Homo sapiens: one gene and its partner. The protein of the gene in region 2 purifies or fractionates together with the protein of the main gene of each other region. This does not show direct contact. Each region holds a gene or a part of one and is shown on either strand. Other genes may lie near its edges. The genes, in order: SMC1A and NIPBL.

Region 1 (7,122 bases), on a different chromosome or scaffold from region 2:
CTCATCTGTAGGCTTCACCTGTGGGGAGAAGCTCAGTCAGTGGCAGAACACAAACAGGGAGTACTAGAGGAGGGGCCCTTGAACACTGGCCTGACCCAATCCCCAACAAGCCTCACCTCCAGGTAGTCAAGAGGCAAGAAGGTCTCAGGCTCCCCACGCTGCTCCTTGATATACTGAATACAGTCCCGGCCTGTCTTCTCCGAGTCCACAATAATGGCATCCATGTTCTTGCCCAAAACCTTGGTTACAGCAATCTGATACTTCTTTTGTGTGGGCTGGCATAGGTCAATGAGGCGGCCGTACTGAGTAAAGTAGGAAGGGAAAACTGAAGTATGAAGCTTTTGGAAGCTGGCTCAGGAATCCTAATTCCCAGTATGGAAAGGGGGACAGACTAGAATCTATATCAGGAAGTGAATGCAACTGTATTGCCTAGTGGTTAAGATAACCCAATACCAAGCATGGTAGTGTGTGTTTGTAATCCTAGCTACTTGGGAGGTTGCAATGGGAGGACAGCTTAAGCCCAGGAGTTCAAGACCAGCCTGGGCAACATAATGAGACCCTGTCTCAAAACAAACAAAAAAGACAGCCCACTAGTTCTGTACCCATGCAACCCTACCCTATCTGAATGAGACTGTATGGACTGAGGAGGAGGCAATTGCAGACTAGCTTGCTGTGTGCACTCCAGATCAGCACAGTGGCCAATCCTAACGTCCCTTTGAAAGGTGGAAAAGTTTGGGTAAGAGAAGGGAGGTAAAGAAATGAATAAATGAGTTATGTAATGAGGGAAACTCAGTATTACATTAACACCTCAAAAGAGGTTCAGAGCAAGAGATGATATTGTCTCTTAGCACAATTATCCCAGATGCCTGAAAGTATGAAGCTATGTTTGCCGAGAACACTCCTGGTTTTGGAACCTAACAAGATTGAATAGAAGCCTGCAAACCTGAATGGCCTCACCCTAGGAGACATTTTTACATGACATGATCATGGACTAGACTAATTATTAATTAATGACTCAGTGGGATTCTAGTAATGTGCCAGTATCTTTCTACTCTTTTTTGGAGACGGAGTCTCACTCTGTTGCCCACGCTGAAGTGCAGTGGCGCAATCTTGGCTCACTGCAACCTCCACCTCCCAGGTTCAAGTGATTCTCCTGCCTTAGCCTCCCGAGTAGCTGGGATTACAGGTGCCCGCCACCATGCCCGGCTAATTTTTGTATTTTTAGTAGAGACGGGGTTTCACCATGTTGGCCAGGCTGATCTCAAACCCCTGACCTCCGATGATCTGCCCGCCTCGGCCTCCCAAAGTGCGAGGATTACAGGCGTGAGCTACCGCTCCCAGCATCTTTCTATTTATTACATGATTGTTCTGATGTAAGGGATCTGTGTTTGAAGATCAAAGTGGACTGTGGTTTTATGAAATATATATTTAGTCTTCTACCCGTGAGTTCCTGACACACAACTCCTAAAACCCTTAGAATCTCAGGAATGAGCAGTGTCTTTTGTATGTTAATGAGATGATTATGGCTGGAGGCCCATAGATAGCTTCTGGATAGGGGCTGGTTACCAGAAAGACCAAGGCAGGATTAGATTTGGGACTCTTAGCTCCACCCCTACAACCTTCAGGAGGGGAGAGGGGCTGAAGGTTGAACTGATCACCGATGGCTGATGATCTGATCAATCATGACTACATAATGAAGCCCCTGTGTGGGGGTACCTGGAGGGTGGCTTGCCCAGATTGGGCATGGAAGCTTCACATCTCTTCTCCCATACCTTGCCTTATGCATCCATCTGGCTGTTCTCTGTATCCTTTGTAATATCCTTCATAATAAATGGGTAAACATAAGTAAAACATTTTCCTGAGTTCTGTGAGCTGCACTAGTAAATTAATCGAACCCAGGGAGGGATTCTCGGGAACTGTAATTTATAGCAGGTCAGTCAGAACCACAAGTCACAACCTGAGACTTGCAATTGGCACCTGAAGTCTTGGACTGAGCCCCTAACCCACAGGATCTGATGCTATCTCCAGATAAATAGTGTCAGAGCTGAAGTGAATTATAGGTCACCCAGCTGGTGTCTGCTGGAGAATTGCTTGGTGTGTGAGGAAAAACCCCCACACTTCTGGTGTCAGAAGTGAAGTGTTGTGCTGGTTGTGAGAGTAGAAAAAACACTTTGGTTTTTTCCTATCTCACAGAAGAACACAGCCCCCATGCTATCAAGGAAAAGCCTATTCTGGTTCCCAAGCAATGACTTCAGGCAGTCGTGTCTGAATCCAGAATCATCTTTCTAAACCTCACATCTACCATTTTACAGACCACCACCACCCAGGCACTATGCCAAGTATCTTATATATATTATTTCAAATTCTCACAAGCACTTAGCAAAATAAATCTGGCTGGGCGTGGTGACTCACGCCTGTAACCCTACCACTTTGGGAGGCCGAGGCGGGCAGATCACTTGAGGTCAGGAGTTTAAAACCAGCCTGGCCAACATGGTGAAACCCCGTCTCTACTAAAAATACAAAAAAATTAGTTGGGCATGGCGGCGAGCACCTGTAATCTCAGCTACTTGGGAGGCTGAGGCAGGAGAATCACTTGAGCCTAGGAGGCAGAGATTGCAGTGAGCCGAGGTTGTGCCACTGCACTCCAGCCTGGGCGACAGAGCGAGACTCCATCTCAAAATCAATCAATCAATCAATCAATCTCTTCTACCAGTTCCCTTCCTGCAGCCTCCAAAACCAAGCCTGGTTCCCTAAGAACTATCAGATTAAGGGGGCAGGGACTGACTCTAACCATACTTATCTCCCCAGCAGTGTCTAGAGAAGTGATAGGGAAATATTAGTGGAACCAAACTAAGTTGAACCCAGGTATGGGATAATATTCAGGGAACCTGGGAACTCAGGATTTGGTGAAAGAGGCCAAAAGATCAAGAGATCTGATAAAGCTCAGGGTGTCCCTAAAAGCTACTGGACCAGTTAATACATGCCAAGGGAGCCCCTTTATAAGACTGCACAGAGCTACTTCCTGGGAGAGTAATTCCAGCCCCATGGCCCCACCTGCTTCCAAAATCTTTCCTGGTTTTCCAATTCCCCTCCCAGAGGCATAGACATAGCAAGACAAAACCTTCAGAAAGACGCAATTGGTATGATGAAAAGAACATGATTGCCTAGTATGACAGGTTGAAAAATAAAAAAAAAAAAAAAAAAAAAAGAACATGAGCTCAGGAGAACAAGTTGGGTTTGAACTGCAGTTCTTCCTCTTAGAAGCGGTGCTTTTTTAAACCTCTCCGAGCCTCATTTCCCCCAACAATAAAAATGGGATTGGCAACCCTGTCCTTACAGGGCTGCTGGGAAAATCGTGTGACAGTGAGTGTAAGTGCTCAGGAAATGAGTTCCCTCTCTGCTCTTACCACAGAGCCAGGGTAAAGGCGCTTGATGCTTTCCATTATCTCTGCCTTTCGCTGCTGGCGGCTGCTCTCCTGGCGGTCGATGCGGGCATCCCCTAGCTGCTCCATCACCTGGTTCAGCTCCTTATTGATTTCATCAATACGCCGCTTGGCCATCTCCACCTCCTCTGTCAGCTCCCCCTCTAGCTTCTTCTGCTCTTCTAGGGACTGCCTACAAAGTGAGGGCACACAGGAGTTACTCCTGCTGGTGAGAAAATACTCCTGGCTCAGAGAGCTCTGGGGGTCCTGCATGAAGAGGGGCATGTAGGTAGGGTCACAAGAACAGGCCTGGAAGTAAGGGGGACAGATGCAGAGCTACATACTTGCTAGTGGTGATGTATTCCTCCAGTTTCTCAATCCGCTTCTGATTCTCTTCAATTTCCCGCAGCTTTTGCTTGATCTTGGCCTGGGAAACAAACATTCCATCATCAGGGGCTGCACGAGTTTACGCCAAGACCATGGGGGCTCTAGATCACACCCTTTATGTGCCCACTCATCCAAGAGCCGAACAGTCCAGGACAATCTGTCACTAATATAGGAGGCCTACTAAAAAGCAGACATAGATGGTGTTCGGTTTGATCTACTAACTAATGATGGGGGCCTCCCAGAGCTCCAGAACCTCTCATAGGTGTTCTACCCAGCCAAGGCATCTTCTTCACCAACCATGGAGGCTCAAATCAAGATAAAGCTTCACAGGCCTTTCTGTACCTGTTTCCTCATCTGCAAAATGTGGGTAATCTCCACTGCATAGAATACACATTAAGTGCTTAATATAGGGTTGTTATTAATATTAATGACTATCACATTATTTTTAAAAAATTTTTATTATTTTTTAAAATTTGAGACAGGGTCTCACTGTGTTGCTCAGGCTGATCTCAAACTCCTGGCCTCAAGTGATCCACCACGCCTGGCCAACATTCTTTTAAATATTTAAAAGTGCTTAGCAGAATGCCTGAACACTGTACACTCCTGGGACACTATGACAACTTTCTATCATTGCTGTTATTACAATATTGATATCAGGGAGGCAGTAAGTAAAGTATATTTGGTAAGAGTGTGGGCTTTAGAGCTACAATGCCCAGGGTCTGGTTCTGATACTTAATAGTTATGTGAGTGGCCGGGCACGGTGGCTCGCGCCTGTAATCCCAACACTTTGGGAGGCCAAGGCAGGCTGATCGCAGAGGCAGGCAGGAGTTTAAGACCAGCCTGGGCAACAAGCAGAAACCCTGACTCTATAAAAATTAAAAAATTAGGAGGCCGAGGCGGGCGGATCACTTGAGTTCGGAAGTTCAAGACCAGCCTGGTCAACATGGTGAAATCCCATCTCTACTAAAACTACAAAAAATTTAGCCAGGTGTGGTGGCACCCACCTGTCATCCCACCTACACGGGTGGCTGAGACACAAGAATCACTGGAACCGGGCTGGGTGCGTTGGCTCACACCTGTAATCCCAGCACTTTAGGAGGCCAAGGCGGGTGGATCACCTGAGGTCAGGAGTTCGAGACCAGCCTGACCAACAAGGTGAAACCCCGTCTCCACTAAAAATACAAAAATTAGCCGGGAATGGTGGCTGGTGCCTGTAATCTCAGCTACTTGGGGAGGCTGAGGCAGGAGAATTGCTTGAACTTGGGAGACAGAGGTTGTAGTGAGCCGAGATGGCACCATTGCACTCCAGCCTGGGCAACAAGAGAGAAACTGCGTCTCAAAAAACAATAAAAATAAAAATAAAAAAATAAAAAGAATCACTTGAACCCGACAGGCAGAGGTTGCAGTGAGCTGAGATCATGCCACTGCACTCCAGCCTGGGCAACAGAGTGAGGCTTTGTCTCAAAAAAAAAAAAAAAAAAAGTAGCCAGGCATGGTGGCAAGCACAAGTAATGCTGGATACTCAGGAGGCTCTGGTTGGAAGATTGCTTAAGCCTGGGAAGTCGAAGCTGCAGTGAGCCATGGTCGCACCACTGCACCTCAGCCTGCATGACAGAGAAAGACTCTGTCTCAAAAATAACAATAATCTTGTGACCTTAGGCAAATTACTCTGTGTTGTAATTTCCTCATTCATAAAATAGGGTAATAGTAGCCATTCCATAAAGATAATAATAAATGAAGAATTAAATGAGTGGATACATGTAAAGAACATTGCCTATCATACAGTAAGTGCTCAACAGATGTGAGCTACTGTCATTATCATTGTCATTATCATTAAGATTATCATGGCCAGGCGCAGTGGCTCAAGCCTGTAATCCCAGCACTTTGGGAGGCCGAAGTGGGTGGATCACAAGGTCAGGAGCTCGAGACCAGCCTGGCCAACGTAGTGAAACCCTGTCTCTACTAAAAATACAAAAATTAGTTGGACATGGTGGCGCACGCCTGTAGTCCCAGCTACTCAGGAGGCTGAGGCAGGAGAATTGCTTGAACCCGGGAGGCAAAGGTTGTGGTGAGCTGAGATCACATCACTGCACTCCAGCCTGGGCAAGAGCGAAACTCTGTCTCAAAAAAACAAAAAAACAAAAAAAAAGACTATCATTACAGGTTGGGTAACTCTAATCCAAAATGCTTAGGACCGGAAACGTTTCAGATTTTGGATTATTTTGGATTTGGGATGCTCAACCTATATATATCCTTTTCTGTGGACCATCATCCCTAATCTTATAACTATAGCCCACCTCTGTCTCTACTTTCTTCCGTTCTTCCAGATCCAGACGGTCCTGGTCAGCTTTCTGGTCTCGATTGAATTTCTCCAGCTCCTGGGCCAGGGTAGCTGCTCTCTTGCTGGCTTCTTCTTTCAACCGGTGGTATTTCTTCACCTGTGTTAGGGACAGGGAAGGAGAACAGGGATGACCAAGTCAGCAGATGTCAGCCCAGGGATCTCCTCCCTGCCAACCCCTTCCAGAGCTTACCTGATTCTCCTCCAACGTCAAATCTCTGCCCTGACTCTGACTCTCTTCTTCCATCCGTTCTTCAAACTCCTGCCGAGCCTTCTCCACTGACAGCATCTCCTTCTCCAGCTCATCCATGTCACCTTTACGCTTCTTGTAGTGCTTCTGAGCATTCTGCAGAGACTTCTTGGCTGCTTCCAGCTTCTTGATTTTGTGGGAGGTGTTCTCCTTGGCTTTGATGTACTGAGGCCGCTTCTGGTTCAATTCTGAGTCCTTCTCCCTTTTGCCAGAGGGGTGGGGGAAACCAGTGAGAACTATGGAAGAAGGGAGGGTTCCCAGGCTTTTCACCCAAAGGAGAGCTTGAGCCCCTGAGCCAACCTCAGGGAATTACTTAAAAGAACATGGGCGTAATGCCCCACAGATCCTGAAAAAAAGGGGCAGTCTGACTACTCCCTGAAAGGTATGACTTCAGCCTGGCATTCCAGCCACTCCATAAGGCAAAGCTACCAACTCTGCCTCAACCCTGGCCAGGAAGCTCATTAACAACTCCCAAGAACATCCTGTATTTACTTAGTTGGCCCCTCAAATTCCTATCCTTTAAACTTCTAGCTTCAGTTTCCTCTTCTAGGAAGGCCTTCTCAGCCACTCCATTGGCTCGGCCTCACATTGGTTCCTCTTTCTTGGCAAGGCCACCACCCCTTTTGAGTTCTCCCTCATCTGAGCACCTGTCTACCCAGGGCCTGAGTGCTTAAATATTCTATTTGTCTAAACTGCAAGTCAAGAAATGTGCCTGGTTCTTACAA
Region 2 (16,685 bases):
AACCGCCCACTAAATGCTGCTCAATGTTTGTCGCAGCAAGAACAAACAGCATTCCTTCCAGCAAATCAAGTGCCTGTTTTACAACAGAACACTTCAGTTGCTGCAAAACAACCCCAGACTTCTGTGGTACAGAATCAACAACAGATATCACAACAGGGACCTATATATGATGAAGTGGAATTGGATGCATTGGCTGAAATTGAGCGAATAGAGAGAGAATCAGCTATTGAAAGGGAGCGCTTCTCAAAAGAAGTTCAAGATAAAGGTAAAATAATCTCATTATTACCACTTCATCATCTGGGCAAATATGTAATTATAGTGTCAAAAATTTTTTTCACATTACTTTTTTCCCGAATATTTTGTATAATTTATGTCTACTCAAGTACATATTTTTATTACTAATACTCATAATGCAGAAGTTAAATTCGTAACAATTTCATTTATTGTCTGAAACAACTATATGAGATTTGGTAATTCTCTACTACAGGTCTGTTACTCATTATGTACTATATGATTTTACTTATTTGTGCTTTTCTGCTAAAATGAACATTAGCATTTCTATATAACATGTATATTTCACAAGTTACATTAATATTGTTGTGCACCTTCAAATTTTTTTCTGCTAAAACAAGGTTAACCACTGTAGAATTATTTTGAACAGGTACACTTAAGAAAAGCTCATGTGTATGCTTATTAGGCAGTTAGATATTTCACTTGGTTTATGATCCTACTGGCTTAATAATGTCAAATTTTTTTAGTAAACAAATCATGGAAAGAGTTAATATTAAATAGCAAACCTTAGAAATTAAGAGTCTTTTGGTGGTAATTACAGTGAAGTGTTCCCTTTTGTCTGACTAGTATGTTAGGATGGAGTTTCAAGACATACCTGGTCTATGAGTTTATGAGCTTTCCTTGCGCTTCATAATCAAACAAAAATAAATTCATAGTAAGTTCTTAGTAATTTGGTATACACTGTATACAAAATTTCTTTCATGTTTTAAGAGACTGATGAATCAGTGATTCAAATTAGCAATATAATTGATGAATTTGATTGCTATATAAATGCATATACACATTTGATCAGACCAAAAGCATGCTTTATGATTTAATTTTATGATTAAAATATTTTAGGTTGATTTTCAGTTCTTATATTTTATTTCTTGGTAATGATAAAACTTCTTGATATTGGGTAGAGCTGATTTTTATATATGATGTGTTCAGTGTTTGACAGGATCATGACAAGATAATTGTGTTTCTATGCTAAGAAACATGCTGAAGATTAGTATTATATTTCCTGTCTGTCATGATGGCTCATTTTAATGTTATTGAAAAAAAATGGACTGTATTTAGTAATTGTTGTACTACAATGTTTGCAACATATGTAAATCAGAAATAGATGCAAATAAAGAGATTGCTAGAAGTCTTCATTTTACTGGCTAGGGAGCTGGGTTTTTTTTTCTTTGTCTTTTTTTTTTTTTAATATAGATTCAGGGGATATATGTACAGGGGTTTGTTACGTGGGTATATTGTGTGGTGGTGAGATTTGGGCTTGTAGTGAACCCGTCACCCAAATAGTGATCATAGTACCCATTAGATAGTTTTTCAACCTTGGCTTCGTCCCTTTTTCCCCCTTTTTGAGTCCCCTGTGTCTGTTGTTTCTAACTTTATGTCCGTGTGTACCCATTGTTGAATTCCCACTTATAAGTGAGAACCTGTAGTGTTTCATTTTCTGTTTCTGCATTATTTCACTTAGGGTAGATAATGGCCTCAAACTGCATCCATGTTGCTGCAGAGGACATGATTTCATTCTTCTTTATGATTGTGTACCACGGTGTATATATACCACATTTTGTTTATCCAGTCCACTCCTGATGGACGCTTAGGTTGATTCTGTAACTTTGCTATTGTAAATAGTGCTGTGATAAACATATGAGTGCAGGTGTCTTTTTTATAAAGTAATTTTTTTCCCTATGGATAGAAACCCAGTAGTGGGATTACTAGGTCAAATGGTAGTTCTATTTTTTGTTCTTTGAGAAATCTCCATACTGTTTTTCATAAGGGTTGAACTAATTTACATTCCCACCAACAGTGTGTAAGTGTTCCCTTTTCTCTGCAGCCTCTGTTATTTTTTGACTTTTTAGTAATAGCCATTCTGACTGGTGTAAGATTGTATCTCATTGTGGTTTAATTTGCATTTCTCTGATGATTAATGATATTGAGCATTTTTTAAAATGTTTGTTGGCTGTGTGTACATCTTCTTTTGAGAAGTGTCTGTTCATGTCTTTTGCCCACTTTTTAGTGGGTTGTTTTTTTCTTGTTGATTTGAGTTCTTTATAGATTCTCAGTATTAGACCTTTGTTGGATGCATAGTTTGTAAATACTTTCTCTCATTCTCTAGGTTGTCTGTTTACTCTGCTATGGTTTCTTTTGCTGTACAGAAACTCTTTAGTTTAATTAAGTCCCATTTGTCAATTTTTCTTTGTGTTGTTTTTGCTTTTTAGGTCTTAGTCATAAATTCTTTAATTAGGACAATGTCCCAAAAGAGTTTTTTGCAGGTTTTCTTCTAGGATTTTTATTGTTTGAGGTCTTACAGTTACATATTTAATTCATCTTGAGTTAATTTTTGTATAGGTGAGAGGCAGGAGTCCCGTCTCGTTCTTCTGCTTATGGCTAGCCAGTTTTCCCAGCACCATTTATTGAATAGCGTGTACTTTTTCCATTGTTTATTTTTGTCAACTTTGTTGGAGATCAGTTGTTTTTAGGTATGTGGCTTTATTTCTGGGTTCTCTATCCTGTTCCATTGATCTGTGTGCCTATTTTTATACCAGTACCATGCTGTTTTGCTTACTCTAGTCTTGCAGTGTAGTTTGAAGTTTCCTAATATGATGCCACCAGCTTTATTCTTTTTGCTGAGGATTGCTTTGGCTATTCAGGTTCTTTGTTGGTTTTATATAAATTTTAGGATAGTTTTTCCAGTTCTTTGAAAAATTACGTTGGTAGTTTGATAGGAATAGTGTTGAATCTGTAGATTACTTTGGGCAGTATAGTCAGTTTTAACAATATTGATTCTTCCTATCCATGACCATGGAATGTTTTTGATTTGTTTGTGTTATCTATGATTTATTTTATCAGTGTTTTGTAGTTGTCCTTGTAAAGCTCTTGCAACTCCTTGTTTAAATGTATTCCTAGGTATTTTATTTTGTGTGTGTGGCTATTGTAAATGAGATTGAGTTCTTGATTTGGTTCTCAGCTCGAACGTTATTGGTGTATAGACATGCTACTGATTTTGGTACAATTATTTTGTATCCTAAAGCTTTATTGAAGTTATCAGGTCTATGAATCTTTTGGAGGAATTTTTAGGGTTTTCTAAGTATGGGATCATGTCATCAGTGAACAGAGATAATTTGACTTCCTCTTTTCCTATTTGGATGCCTAATATTCCTTTGTCCTGCCTGATTGCTCTGGGTAGGACTTCTGGAATTTTTTTTTAAACTGGTAAAGTTTTGATATTAAGGGTGAAATGTTGCTTGTACCTCTTCTCTTTAGTTTGCAGTATGAGGTTCAGGAAATAAATATATAGGTTCCAAATTATATCTCTTCCTCTAACCTGTTATAAAAGTATACGCATATCAAATGAAAAAAGTAATATTACTCAGCTTTTCTTATTAACCTGTTCAAAATTCCTGAATCTTAGGATAGCCAGTTTTGCAGGAAACATACAATATCACAATTCCCTGACCAAGAAATATTAGTTGCCCTGATAACTGAATTTTTTGCATGACGTTAAATCTGTATTATGGAAAAATGTGTTCTTGAAAAAGAATGTACTTTTTAAGTGAATTTTAATAGATGTTGATAGTAACAAAAACAGAGGAGGAATGGTGACCTTTTTTTTATGTATCATGTTTGTTGAATCCAAAGTTTCTACTTATAAAAATGGAATTAAAATAAGGGTCATATATAGTTCTAATTGCATATTAGCAAACTTATTTTATACTGCGAACTTTCCTTTGGAAAAATAGAACAAAGTCAACAGATACAACATACTGTTCTTGTAGAAACTTGTATATTTTATTTTCAATTATCTAAATAGTTTTTTCTGTAATCTGTGATGGCATAGTTAACAGATAACTGAAAAGTTGAATGAGCAGAGTTGACATTCAATTTTGGTGAAAATACAGGTATGCGGTGATAACCTGAGGATTAAAGTAGGTTTTGCTGATTTCATATTATTGTTGTCATTTCTAACTTGTTTCCTGAAAGCCACTTTCCTCTTATTTCGTGGATTTATAGTCACGTATCACATAATGATGTTTCATTTCACACCAGACTTTATATACAATGGTGGTCCCATAAAAATATAATATTGTATATTTACTCTACCTTTTTTATGTTTAGATATGTTTTAGATACACAGATGCTTACCATTGTGTTACAGTTGCCTACAGTATTCAGTATAGTAACATGCTGTACAGGTTTATAGCCTGGGAGCAATAAGCTATACCATATAGCCTAGGTACATAGTAGGCTATATCATCTAGGTTTATGTGAATATACTATATGATGTTCACGTAACAGAGACACCTCCTAACAATGCATTTCGCAGAATGTATCCTGTTGTTAAGCAATACATGAAATACATGACCGCATTTGAAAACTTTTGGAACTTAGATGCCACCTAACCCTTTTGATTTGAACTTGGCATATTGCATTCAGTTTCTGCATTGTGTGATGGGATGGTATTTGTTATATAAGAAGTTACCTTGAGATTTTGAGATGATTAAAGGTGTGTATATTGGTCCAAGGGTGTAGGTGAGGTCATAAATAAAAGCAAAATTCTTCTGAAGTGGTGGTTTTAGAGCCCTTAAGAGATGAAATACTTCCTTGAAATTAATTTGTCCCAGTTACCATTATTTTTACTTATTAAAGACTAAATGTTAAAGTGGACATTTAATATATTCAAACATTTGGCACTGAGGACTTTTTTACAACTGTTGTATTACTACTGGTGATATGGAGCAGGCAGGACTATTTGTCTGGCCTACTAGTTGCACTTTAGGATATGAGTTTGTTTGCCAATATATTCGTTTACTGTGAGAGAAATATTCCACTCAATAACCAGAAATCAAAAACACTGTACCTTATAAGTAAGATTAGAAAGTTCAACAAATGTAGAATATTTGTGGAATTCAAGTAAAGGGATAGAATAATCTTAAGAAATGTTTTACCTAGGCTGTGGTAGACCCTATTGTACCCTTGTTCCGCAGAAGAAAGACATTTTTCTAGCCGCTAGGTATTTATGTCCCTTTGTCCTGTTCTCTCTTCTTTGAGCAGTTCTGTATATACGTTGATAAGGCAACTTTGTAACCTAATATTTTATAATATTCCAAAAGGACCCTTTTCTCAATCTTTTTGCTCATACTTTTAGTGTCTCTAATTACATAAATTAATTTTAAAAGGCTATTCATCTTTCTTTGCTTCTGGGATGACCTGTCATTAGATATTAATACCTTTTTCATGTGCTGAAAATTTCTGCTTTCTTTTGTCAAAGAGGGGGTTCCTTTGTTCATCTTTGCCTATTTCATCTTTTCCCAAGGTCCACTTTCCATGTTAGCAAGTATAAGGAATGGCTCAGCTTCACTAATGTTTTTATAATGTTACAATATTCTTGCACTATAGCCCTTGTTAAAAGTCAATGATTACCTACTGTCATTTGGAATAAGAGACCGGGATTTTGGTACAAGGAATAGGACAATTAGCCACTCAGCCTGTATTGTGGTTGAGGGGTGGTGTGTTTTCATTTTACATAATTGGCTACCATGTATACACAATTATTGTGCTTTCTGCTTTAAGTGTTTTCATTTATCACTTGTAGATTTAAGTAAGTGGTATAGTTTGTTTTTCTTGTAAGCGTAATTGAGTTTAGAATTTCTGTAAGGGCTGCATCTTATTTTGAGAATATCAGCATCTGGATGACAAGTGTTGGTTTTGAGATTATGATAATCCTTTTGTATGCATTTTCTTTAGGAATATATGTATTCTGATAGCTAATCTTATGGTTCCCAGTGCTGAAGAGGGCTTACAGGTAATCACTGTCCTAAATACCAAAATGATTCTTCATAGAGATGGCTTTCCATGATTATTAGGTGGTTATGATGTAATGAAGACTCATAACAAAAGTGGGTGGACAAAAGTGACCTGTACAGATTCAGAGCTGCTTTATAAGGAGTAAGTTCATGGTGGAATTGAATCAGACCAAGTGAATCAGAACATACATGCTCTTGACATACCTAAGAATCCTTGTCACAGTAATGAAAATTTTCCAGGTTTTACAGGAGTAAAGTACTTTTCAGTAGTTGAACGATTAAAATTTTGTATTTAACAGCATTTTGTATATACTGAAAAACAATGGTAAGATGTTTCCCAATCTTAATTACTTGTGTGCAAATACTTTCATACATTTTTTATTATAAATAATCATAGGATTCATAGTTTAAATAAAATATATCATTTCTTTGAAATTAACTTACTGTATTTGCTAAATTTTCATTTTAATGTCTTTACGTAAATTGGATTGAGGTTAATAATATATAAACTCTTGAGTATTTTGTAATCCTTTAAAAATCAGCCCTCTAAGCTATGTTAATGTTTTTCTGAAGACTGTGCATAAAAGAGTCAGCCATAGATATCTTAAATCTTCAGATGCCTGAGACCTATGTCGTTGTGTATCTTAAGTATGATTGATTAGTCTACCATTTTAATTATTTTTACAAAGCATATTTCCTCAAAAATATAGAAATCTTAGGTTATATTTTTTGAATTTCTAGAGTCTTATAAAAGTTTAAGGGATAAGCATAAATTGATAAAGCATCTTATTCATGAGATATCAATTGGTTTGCCCTGTGGCAGAACATAAAGATGATTTTTGAATGGCAGAACATTCTAAAAGAGGATTCTATAAACATAAATTTAGTATTCTGATTTCTTTTTTAAGGTATTGATGTAGAAAACTTCCTATAAATTCTTACCATGTTAGTTTTAACTGGTGGAAACAATCTAATGATAATATATTATACTTTAGAATTAAAATGGTAGTGTTTTGCAAATGGAGCATGTGTGGTGATAGATTTGACTGGACAACTGAAGGAGCAGAAGGACTTAGTTTTACAAAATATAACTAACAAATATCTTAAGTAAATTGCGGTTATATTTGATTAGATTTTAAACTGGCAAGAACTGCTACTTCCCACTTTAAAAAGAAAACAGTGGAACTTTGCTATATAGAAGAAGCATTACCATTAGGAAAAAAAAATCACAACTTGGTTCTCTAACAATAAGGAGCCATTTTTCAGTTGTCAGTTTGACTTTTAACCTTGTGATACCATCTTCCTTATATGATATATCACATTAGTGAATATTGCAAGAGAATCTAGAGATTGCCTTGTTAAAATAAATAACAGTGACTTTTAAAACATACTCAAGCAATTCAGCAAATAAACAAAAGGAAGCCAAACCTCAAGGTGCTATAATGTAACCATTCCCAAGACCTAACTGGAGATTTAATTTATAGAAAATGACTAGCTCCCTCTTAAGTCAGAAATGGAATCATACACAGAAATATATAGATGTTAAAAATACCTTCACATTTTATTGTAATGGTGAATTTGTGTTTGTGTGTGTGTTTGTCTTTACATTTCATAATACTGTAAATTATTTCTTTCTGAGACCAGAATGGATCCCAGAACATTATAACTTTATATCGAAGAGTAGGAACTGTTTCCTTCAGTGGAAGTTGCTTAAGACAGGATTCTAATTTATACCTATTGCTCCCTGATTTTAAATTTTCTATACCTATGAAATCTGTTGCTTCCTTATTTTAAATTTACTTCTATCTAACATTGTGGTTAACTTTTAAACTCCTTTCACACTTTTAACACTTCAAAGAATTTGAATTATTGATTAAAGTTAAATGACAAATTATTAAATTCTTTTTTTAAATTCATTTTTTCCCAATGGCATGGTATATATTTTCTTTCTTTTTTTTCCATACTTATCTTAGATACAGTAAAAACTTATATTTCCTGTTTGGTATATTGGCAGATTTGGAGCTCTTTATGGTTTTTGGCTAACAGTTAAAAGTAACCTGAGTGAGACTTTATGATTTGTAACTGGTTGCTTTATTATTAGGAAAAGAATCTGATTTATCCGTGACATCTATGAACATAAATATATGTTTGTATTTGGTACATTATAAGTTCTATTCATTTTATATTCTTACACTTATTTATATCCTTAAAGAGTATGCAGTTAAATTCTTTTTACTATATTTATTGAGATCTCTCAAGCATATTTCTTCAAACCTTACCTTTCAAAGTATTGTGTCATTCATGCTTACTATTTTATGTGTACATATTTGCATTTGCATTTTACTCCATTTTAAAAACATAACCTTAAAAAGATAAACAACGTCCATAGGGTTTTTAATAAGATAAGAATACATGTCTATTACTGATATTGATATTTATCTTTAAATTTCAGATAAGCCTTTGAAAAAAAGAAAACAAGATTCTTACCCACAGGAGGCTGGGGGTGCTACAGGAGGTAATAGACCAGCTTCTCAGGAGACGGGTTCTACGGGAAATGGGTCAAGGCCAGCATTAATGGTTAGCATTGATCTTCATCAGGCAGGAAGAGTGGACTCTCAGGCTTCTATAACTCAGGATTCAGACTCCATAAAAAAGCCTGAAGAAATCAAACAATGTAATGATGCACCTGTTTCTGTTCTTCAGGAAGATATTGTTGGAAGTCTTAAATCTACACCAGAAAACCATCCTGAGACACCTAAAAAAAAGTCTGATCCTGAGCTTTCAAAGAGTGAAATGAAACAAAGTGAAAGTAGATTAGCAGAATCTAAACCAAATGAAAACCGATTGGTGGAGACAAAATCAAGTGAAAATAAGTTAGAAACTAAAGTTGAGACCCAAACAGAAGAACTTAAACAGAATGAGAGCAGAACAACTGAATGCAAACAAAACGAGAGCACCATAGTTGAGCCTAAACAAAATGAAAATAGACTGTCTGACACAAAACCAAATGACAACAAACAAAATAATGGCAGATCAGAAACAACAAAATCAAGGCCTGAAACCCCAAAGCAAAAGGGTGAAAGCCGGCCTGAGACTCCAAAACAAAAGAGTGATGGGCATCCTGAAACCCCAAAACAGAAGGGTGATGGAAGGCCTGAAACTCCAAAGCAAAAAGGTGAGAGCCGCCCTGAAACTCCAAAGCAAAAAAATGAAGGGCGACCTGAAACACCAAAACACAGGCATGACAATAGGAGGGATTCTGGAAAGCCATCTACAGAGAAAAAACCTGAAGTGTCTAAACATAAACAAGATACTAAATCTGACTCACCTCGGTTAAAATCAGAACGAGCTGAAGCCTTAAAGCAGAGACCTGATGGGCGATCTGTTTCTGAGTCACTAAGACGTGACCATGATAATAAACAAAAATCAGATGACAGGGGTGAATCAGAGCGACATCGAGGGGATCAGTCTAGGGTTCGAAGACCAGAAACATTGAGATCCTCTAGTAGAAATGAACATGGCATTAAATCTGATAGTTCAAAAACTGATAAACTAGAACGAAAACACAGGCATGAATCAGGGGACTCAAGGGAAAGACCATCTTCTGGGGAACAAAAATCAAGACCTGACAGTCCTCGTGTTAAACAAGGAGATTCTAATAAATCAAGATCTGATAAACTTGGTTTTAAATCACCAACTAGTAAAGATGACAAAAGGACAGAGGGTAACAAGAGTAAAGTAGACACTAATAAAGCACACCCTGACAATAAGGCAGAATTTCCAAGTTATTTGTTGGGGGGCAGGTCTGGTGCGTTGAAAAATTTTGTCATTCCGAAAATCAAGAGGGATAAAGATGGCAATGTTACTCAGGAGACAAAGAAAATGGAAATGAAAGGAGAGCCGAAAGACAAAGTAGAAAAAATAGGATTAGTTGAAGATCTAAATAAAGGAGCTAAGCCTGTAGTTGTGCTACAAAAACTGTCTTTGGATGATGTTCAGAAACTTATTAAAGATAGAGAGGACAAATCAAGAAGTTCCCTTAAACCTATCAAGAATAAACCATCAAAGTCAAATAAAGGTAAGAATACTTCTACTGATGTCATTTATAATATAATCGATTTTAAGTGTTAAGATTACTAAGTTTTAAAAAGGAAATTTACAAAAATTAGAAAGCTACTACATGAAAATATAACATTTATGTCAAACAACAGGAAATTTTTTTCAGGAGTATAGATAAAAAGTTTCCAGTGAATTTTTTTTTCCCCACAGTTTTTTTCTTCCCACCCACTACTCAAGGTAGTTATGAATGTTACTGCTATTTGGTTACACAGAGATAAGTTATTTTGCTGTTTAGTTATTTCTTATATTTCTGAAATATGCTTAAGTGAATGTTGTATTAAAATAGCTGTCTTTAAAAACTCTCTATTTAAAAATGTCTTACAATACTACATTCTTACAGACCTGTGTCTGAGCCAATTATTGATGAATAATTTGTATAGTTTAGAAAGTTATATAAAAGGTTATTTTTCATTTTGTTGGGGAGATGGTTAGTTAAATATGTTTTATATTTTTAAAACATATCTTTTTGTCCTTGTTTATGCAAAGGTAATAGGGAATGGTACTTACTTTTTAAATTTGGTTAAATTGTAAGTTTGTGGGAGGCGGGGGACTGGTGTTATTTTTGCATGGTTTCTGAATTCTCTGGTTACTTGAGTAAAATTATTTCCAAAGGGAGAAGAATGTCTTAAGTGCCAAAAGATAATGGCCATTTGTGCAGAAGATATACTTCTGTATCCCTTTGTACACAAGTATTTAAAATAACTTTTTTTATTTTTAAATAGAGATGGGGTCTTGCTTTGTTGACCAGGCTGGTTTCGAACTCCTGGCCTCAAGTGATCCTCTCCTCTCAGCCTCCCAAAGTGCTGGGATTACAGGCGTGAGCCACCGTGTCCATACAGTCTAAATATACTGAGGTGTAGTGAAGGCAATAGAACTGAGAGTTTATTTAAGTTTTCCTTCTGTGAAAGAGAATTATTAAGAATTTAGATTTATACTTATATATAACCAAGTATATGAAATCTGGAATTGCATTGGCCAAGAGGGTAACCATTGCCTTTTTTGGCTATTTAAATTTAAGTTAACTAAAATTGGAAGTTCATTTCATTAGTAGTCACATGTGGCTGTTGGCTACCATATTGGACAAAACAGAACATTTGCATCATCACAAAGTTGTATAGCACTGCAGTGTATTAGGAGATACAAAAAGTGTGTGGTTATTGTTTTTCATAACATGCTGTTGTAGCTTGTCTACCAAGAAAGCTCTTTGAAAACATATTATAAAGAACTCTTTATTCAAAGAATGACTTGTGGCTAATCTGTTGTTATTCTTGCTTGGTCTTCGTCAACATTCATTTTTTCACTGTTAATTTATTTCCTTTTGTCTTACAATAATGAAAAAAGATTGCCTTCTGAGTCGCTAATATTTGTGTTCTTTGAGTGAAGCTTTTAAATTTTAAATTATGGCAATTAGACTTACCAAAAGTCAGTTAAGACATCAGCCTTAATTAATAAGTAGGCTTTTTTATTTAACTTGAATGCATCTTTTCAGAGTTACTTGTTAATATAAAAGAGGTTGTAGAATGTGGGGGTTAACACCACAATTGTTTTCTTTTAGGTAAAAATTTTCTTTAAAATTTTTTAGTGAAAGTTTGGGAGTAGCTTATATTTATAAACTAAAGAGTATGGCTATACAATTTTAGAAGAGTCAGGTGAAAGATGGAAAGTGGTACCCTCTTGTTCCTTTGATCTGGACCATCTTTCTCTCCCTCCCCTCTCAGCTTACCCTAGCCTTGCTTTCTAAACTCTGTTCTAACAAAGAGTCTTTTAAAACTCCTTAAAGAACATCCAGAAGTGAATATAGCTTTTAGTTAGTAATTGGTATATTATTTCACCTGGGTTTTTCACATGCAATAATATTGCCTATGAATATGTTTTTAGCACCAAAATGCGTTTCTGATAGTATACTTTTAATGCAGATGTATATACCTGATATGGTCATGTTAGTATGTAAGTAAGCTATCTGGGTGTCTGCCTATTAGAGTGATGTGTGTGTATGTGTACATGTGCATGTTTGTGTATATATACACATATATTAATGTAACTGCAATTACAGTAACAGTCCTTTTCATCAAAAAATACTATGTCAGTGCTTAGATGCATTTCAGGATGCCGTGTAGCTATCTTTTGGATTAATTTATTTATGTCTTAGGATCCATATCTTTTTTTTTTAGTAATGATCCAATTTTGGTTTTGTTTTAGATTTTTGCTACTCAGTTTAAATAGCAGAGTTGGGTAATTGTGGATTTTTTAAAATTGCATGTATATGAAGCACAGTTGTAGATTACTGACCCTTTGTAGTATATACTGGGATTTTCTTTGGAGATTCACAGAAAATCACATTTTGATGTGTTGATGATTTTCTGAGTAAAGGAGTTAGTCTGAATACTGCTGGGATACTTGTATGGTTGGTTCCTAGGGCCAAAATTGAAGAGCCATAAATTTCCATCTTTTAAATATTTTACCTGATGTTCATATAGAAAATATTCATTCTTTAGGATATATTTTAAGCTGATAAATTTTGATTGTGTGATAGAGGTATAGATTTATTACTCCTAATTTAGATTACTTATTTTTGTCTTTTGTATGAGCATGATAAATGTAAAGTGGCATTGTTACATTTGATTTGATTTCTGTGGCACTATATCTGTATCCCTAGTACCTAACAAAATACTTCATACATAATAAATCATATTTAATGCCTATTGAATGGAGATGATGTTGCCACCATTTTCAGGAAAAGCTTTTGTGTACAGATTAAAATTAGATAATCGTCTTTTATGTTCCCATCAATACACCCTAGCTCAAGAGCTACTTATTTTTCAAATCCTGCTTCCTAAACATTGTTAATAACTCTTCACCCTGTCAACTACCTAGTTTTTTTGTTAAGATCCAAAGAAAACCTGCTTATAGTAATATGTGTTTAATTTTTCTGTCACACTTATTTTGATCTATACTGGGATTAATATTATTCCCATTCTTATCCTGCATTGTTAACTTCCCTATCTTTCCATCACCATGTTTATTCCTTGCCTGGGAGGGGTGGAGGGGGCAGTCAGGCAGTGTAACTGTTTGTAGAATTCTTTTTAAGTTCTTCAAATATCTTCTACTAAAATATACTTCAATCAGTATGTTACATGCCAAAAAATATGTTGTTAAAAATTTTATTAGACTATTACCCTAATGTATAGTGTCTCTAAATTAAAATAATAAAGTTATGAGATCCTTTAAGATTGGCATAATCTCCCAGCATTTTGGGAGGCCAAGGTGGGTGGATCATTTGAGGTCAAGAGTTAGAGACCAGCCTGGCCAACATGGTGAAACCCCACCTCTACTAAAAATACAAAAATTAGTTAGGCACTGTGGCAGGCACTTGGTAGCCCCAGCTACTCAGGAGGCTGAAGCAGGAGAATCGCTTGAACCCAGGAGGAGGAGATTACAGTGAGCTGAGATTGTGCCACTGCACTCCAGCCTGGGTGACAGAGCGAGACTCTGTCTCCAAAAAAAAAAAAAAAAAAAAAAAATTGGCATAATCATCAACTAACACATGCCTTCAGTGTTATTAACAGCTTATTATCAGTAATTACAAACATATTTGATTTTGTTGTTTTTTTTTTTAACTCCAGAGTGTCTCAAAATATCTTTGCTTTATGTCTAAGGAAACCATTTTTTCTTCTCTCTCCCCCTACTTCTTTCCAACTAGTATATCATTCTCCATTGTGTGGACTCAGTGCTTTCAAGAAATATCCGTATTATTTGTTATTTGACATCATCCTTTAAACTGAAGAGTAAAGCAGTTTCTGAAAGTAGTCTTCACTGGGAATGTATCTAGCAGCTTTAATAGTCAATAGCGATTAGCCTATATTGCTCACTTGATGAGCTAATGATTGCAGGCCTTACTAGCGACAGTGATCGCACTTCAGTTATCTACTGTTACAGTTACACTACTAAATGCTGATAACTATCATCAGCTGGTTGCCTTTTACTTAGCACTGAACCAGTCTAGTTAGATGGTGTTTAGGATCCTCAGCTTCTGCAAGTCTGAAAGTATTGTTTCTGAGAGTGAATTTATAGCACAGTTTATTAATTCCTAAATGAGGAATTTTCGGTGTTTTCTTTAAAGTAGATTGTAATATTGAATAATATTTAATGATGCAGTGGAAATTTATTTTGTTTCATTTGTACAGTTTTATAAAATACCTTTCTTAAAAACTCAAATTTTCAGTTTCTGTAAAGATTGATATCAGTGATATCTTTAGGAAATGTTTGGAGAAAGTTTATTACAGAAGTTGGCATAATCTGTATCTAGCTCTTGTGACTTTAGAGCAGTATTTTGAAAATTTGTACTCATGATTTCCATTTGTAGAAATTTTCCAAAGTATGCTTAATAGATTGTTCATACAAATATTGCTTAAAAGAAATGCATTAAGTAGAAACCTTTTTATAAAAACTAAAGTTTGCTGGAGGTATTCTCTCTCCTTTCCATTCTGTCTCTTAAGCCAGCCCAAAGACATAGTTTCTATAGGGTTCTTGTGTCTGTAGAAATAGGTATATGATTTAACAGCTAAGGAGCTAGCAAATATTAATTCTGTAAGACCCTGTGCCTATTTATGAAGAAATAATCTTTGACATGCTAAATTCCCTTTTATATTCTAAAAAAAAAAAATTTAATGAAACCCTTCTTTACAAGGGCCTGATGTGAAATTAAGAGTATGAATACCTACTAGTATTACACCACCAATAAAATGGGTTTTTTAATATGGATCTCTCTGTCTTGCCTATAAAAATATTAGCGTTTTCTGGCTGTAATGTATCAATTTTTAAAAATTCTCTTTTAAACTTATTACAAATTATAGTACAAAGAGAACTAATATCAAAACCCTGAATAAGCCTTAACCTTTCAAAGCTTGGTTCATTCGCTTTTAAAATAAAGAAACCAATTTCCCTCCTACTTTATACAGTTATAAAGACAAAAATGAATGTTGTTATAGTAAAAGCTAAAGTATGTCTGATTTTTTTATATAAAGGAAAGTACAGTCATTCAATTTCTAATTGAATTGAATTTATCTAATGAAGAAAGTAATTTTTTAAAATAAATCTTTTTATGTATCTGTACTTTATATTCAGTGTAGATTTAAAGATATTACTGCCACAATTTATTTTTCTCACCGTGTATACATATCAAGGAAAGAATCATTTGATCCCTGCCCCCTACTTTTCTGTAATGAGTAGTAAGTTGTTACTTACATAATGAGTAGTAAATTGTCATTTACATGCAGTATTGAAAATTTTTTTTTGCCCCCACTTACCTCTAATTGAAGTTGAAGATCCATTTGGTGCTTCTGTGTTATATGGGTAGGTTAGTGGAAGAATTGTCACTGAACTATTCCATTATGCCTGCCCAAGTTTTTTTTTTTTTTTTTTTAGGATTTATAAAATTTGGAGGTTTATGTGAGGCTCTTAGTTTTGTTTCTGAACGTGACTTGTTTCCATTGACCAAAGCTTCACTTCAGTCCCAAAGATTTTATTAGTTTACGTGATTTATTTCTATCTCAGAGTTGTTTTCCTGTTTTAAAAAGAAAACAGAACACATTGTTAGTTATCAAATCAATGATTCTTTTAAGTTTTTTGATGATTTCTGGTTTTAATAATCTGGCAAGTGCTAATTTGAGTGATTTATAATGGAAATCAAAGATTGCTTAAATGTAGCATATCTAGGAGTAAATGTATTCTTTAGCCATATTAAAGCCAGAGTATAGAGTGCACTGTATCTAATGGAATATATGTACAGAAGCTGAAAATTTGATATCTCACAAAATTGTGACTAAATGACATTATTCATCAAGCCAGTAACATAAAGTTTTATGGGAATTCAGACATGCTGATTTAAAGAATAAAGTAGTTAGGACAAAAGAAATTAGGTGAGAGATAATCATAAAGCACTAGTAATCTGAAGTTTTAGGAACAAATAACTTGGCAAGCAACAATAATCCCTAAAATCATCAATCCCTAAAATACATCATCATATACTAAGAGATAGCAAGACTTTATGTTTGCATTTAATGGATTATTAACTAATTCAGGGGAAATAACATAACCAATTATGTCATACAGATAATTTTAAGTACTTGCTGTTTATTCATTTCTGTTAAACTGAGTTAGTTATCCAGATCAGGATCCTTTTGTTTTTTTAAAGACAGGGTCTCATTCTCTTACCCAGGCTGAAGTACGGTGGTGCTAATATAGCTCACTGCAACCTGGAACTCCTGAGCTGAAATGATCCTCCCATCTCAGCCTCCAAATGGCTGAGTTATCCAGATCCTTGATGTCATATTGAAGATCTCAGGCCTGAATATGGGAAAGTCATGCATTTTATTTATTTATTTATTTATTTATTTATTTATTTATTTATTTATTTATTGAGATGGAGTCTCGCTGTGTTGCCCAGGCTGGAGTGCAGTGGCGTGATCTTGGCTCACTGCA

The links.
Region 1: the proteins of NIPBL (region 2) and SMC1A purify together in Homo sapiens (affinity purification with mass spectrometry; 3 studies listed by BioGRID and IntAct, with this or other methods). This does not show direct contact.

The regions. Positions count from the first base shown.
Region 1 is NC_000023.11:53,405,655-53,412,776, forward strand, and holds part of SMC1A (structural maintenance of chromosomes protein 1A), read right to left. Parts: intron 6,600-7,122; coding exon 6,341-6,599; intron 6,248-6,340; coding exon 6,107-6,247; intron 3,850-6,106; coding exon 3,767-3,849; intron 3,616-3,766; coding exon 3,408-3,615; intron 303-3,407; coding exon 117-302; intron 112-116; exon of another isoform or gene 19-111; coding exon 1-18. UniProt on the Homo sapiens protein: Involved in chromosome cohesion during cell cycle and in DNA repair. Central component of cohesin complex. The cohesin complex is required for the cohesion of sister chromatids after DNA replication.
Region 2 is NC_000005.10:36,976,138-36,992,822, forward strand, and holds part of NIPBL (nipped-B-like protein), read left to right. Parts: coding exon 1-265; intron 266-8,538; coding exon 8,539-10,164; intron 10,165-16,685. UniProt on the Homo sapiens protein: Plays an important role in the loading of the cohesin complex on to DNA. Forms a heterodimeric complex (also known as cohesin loading complex) with MAU2/SCC4 which mediates the loading of the cohesin complex onto chromatin.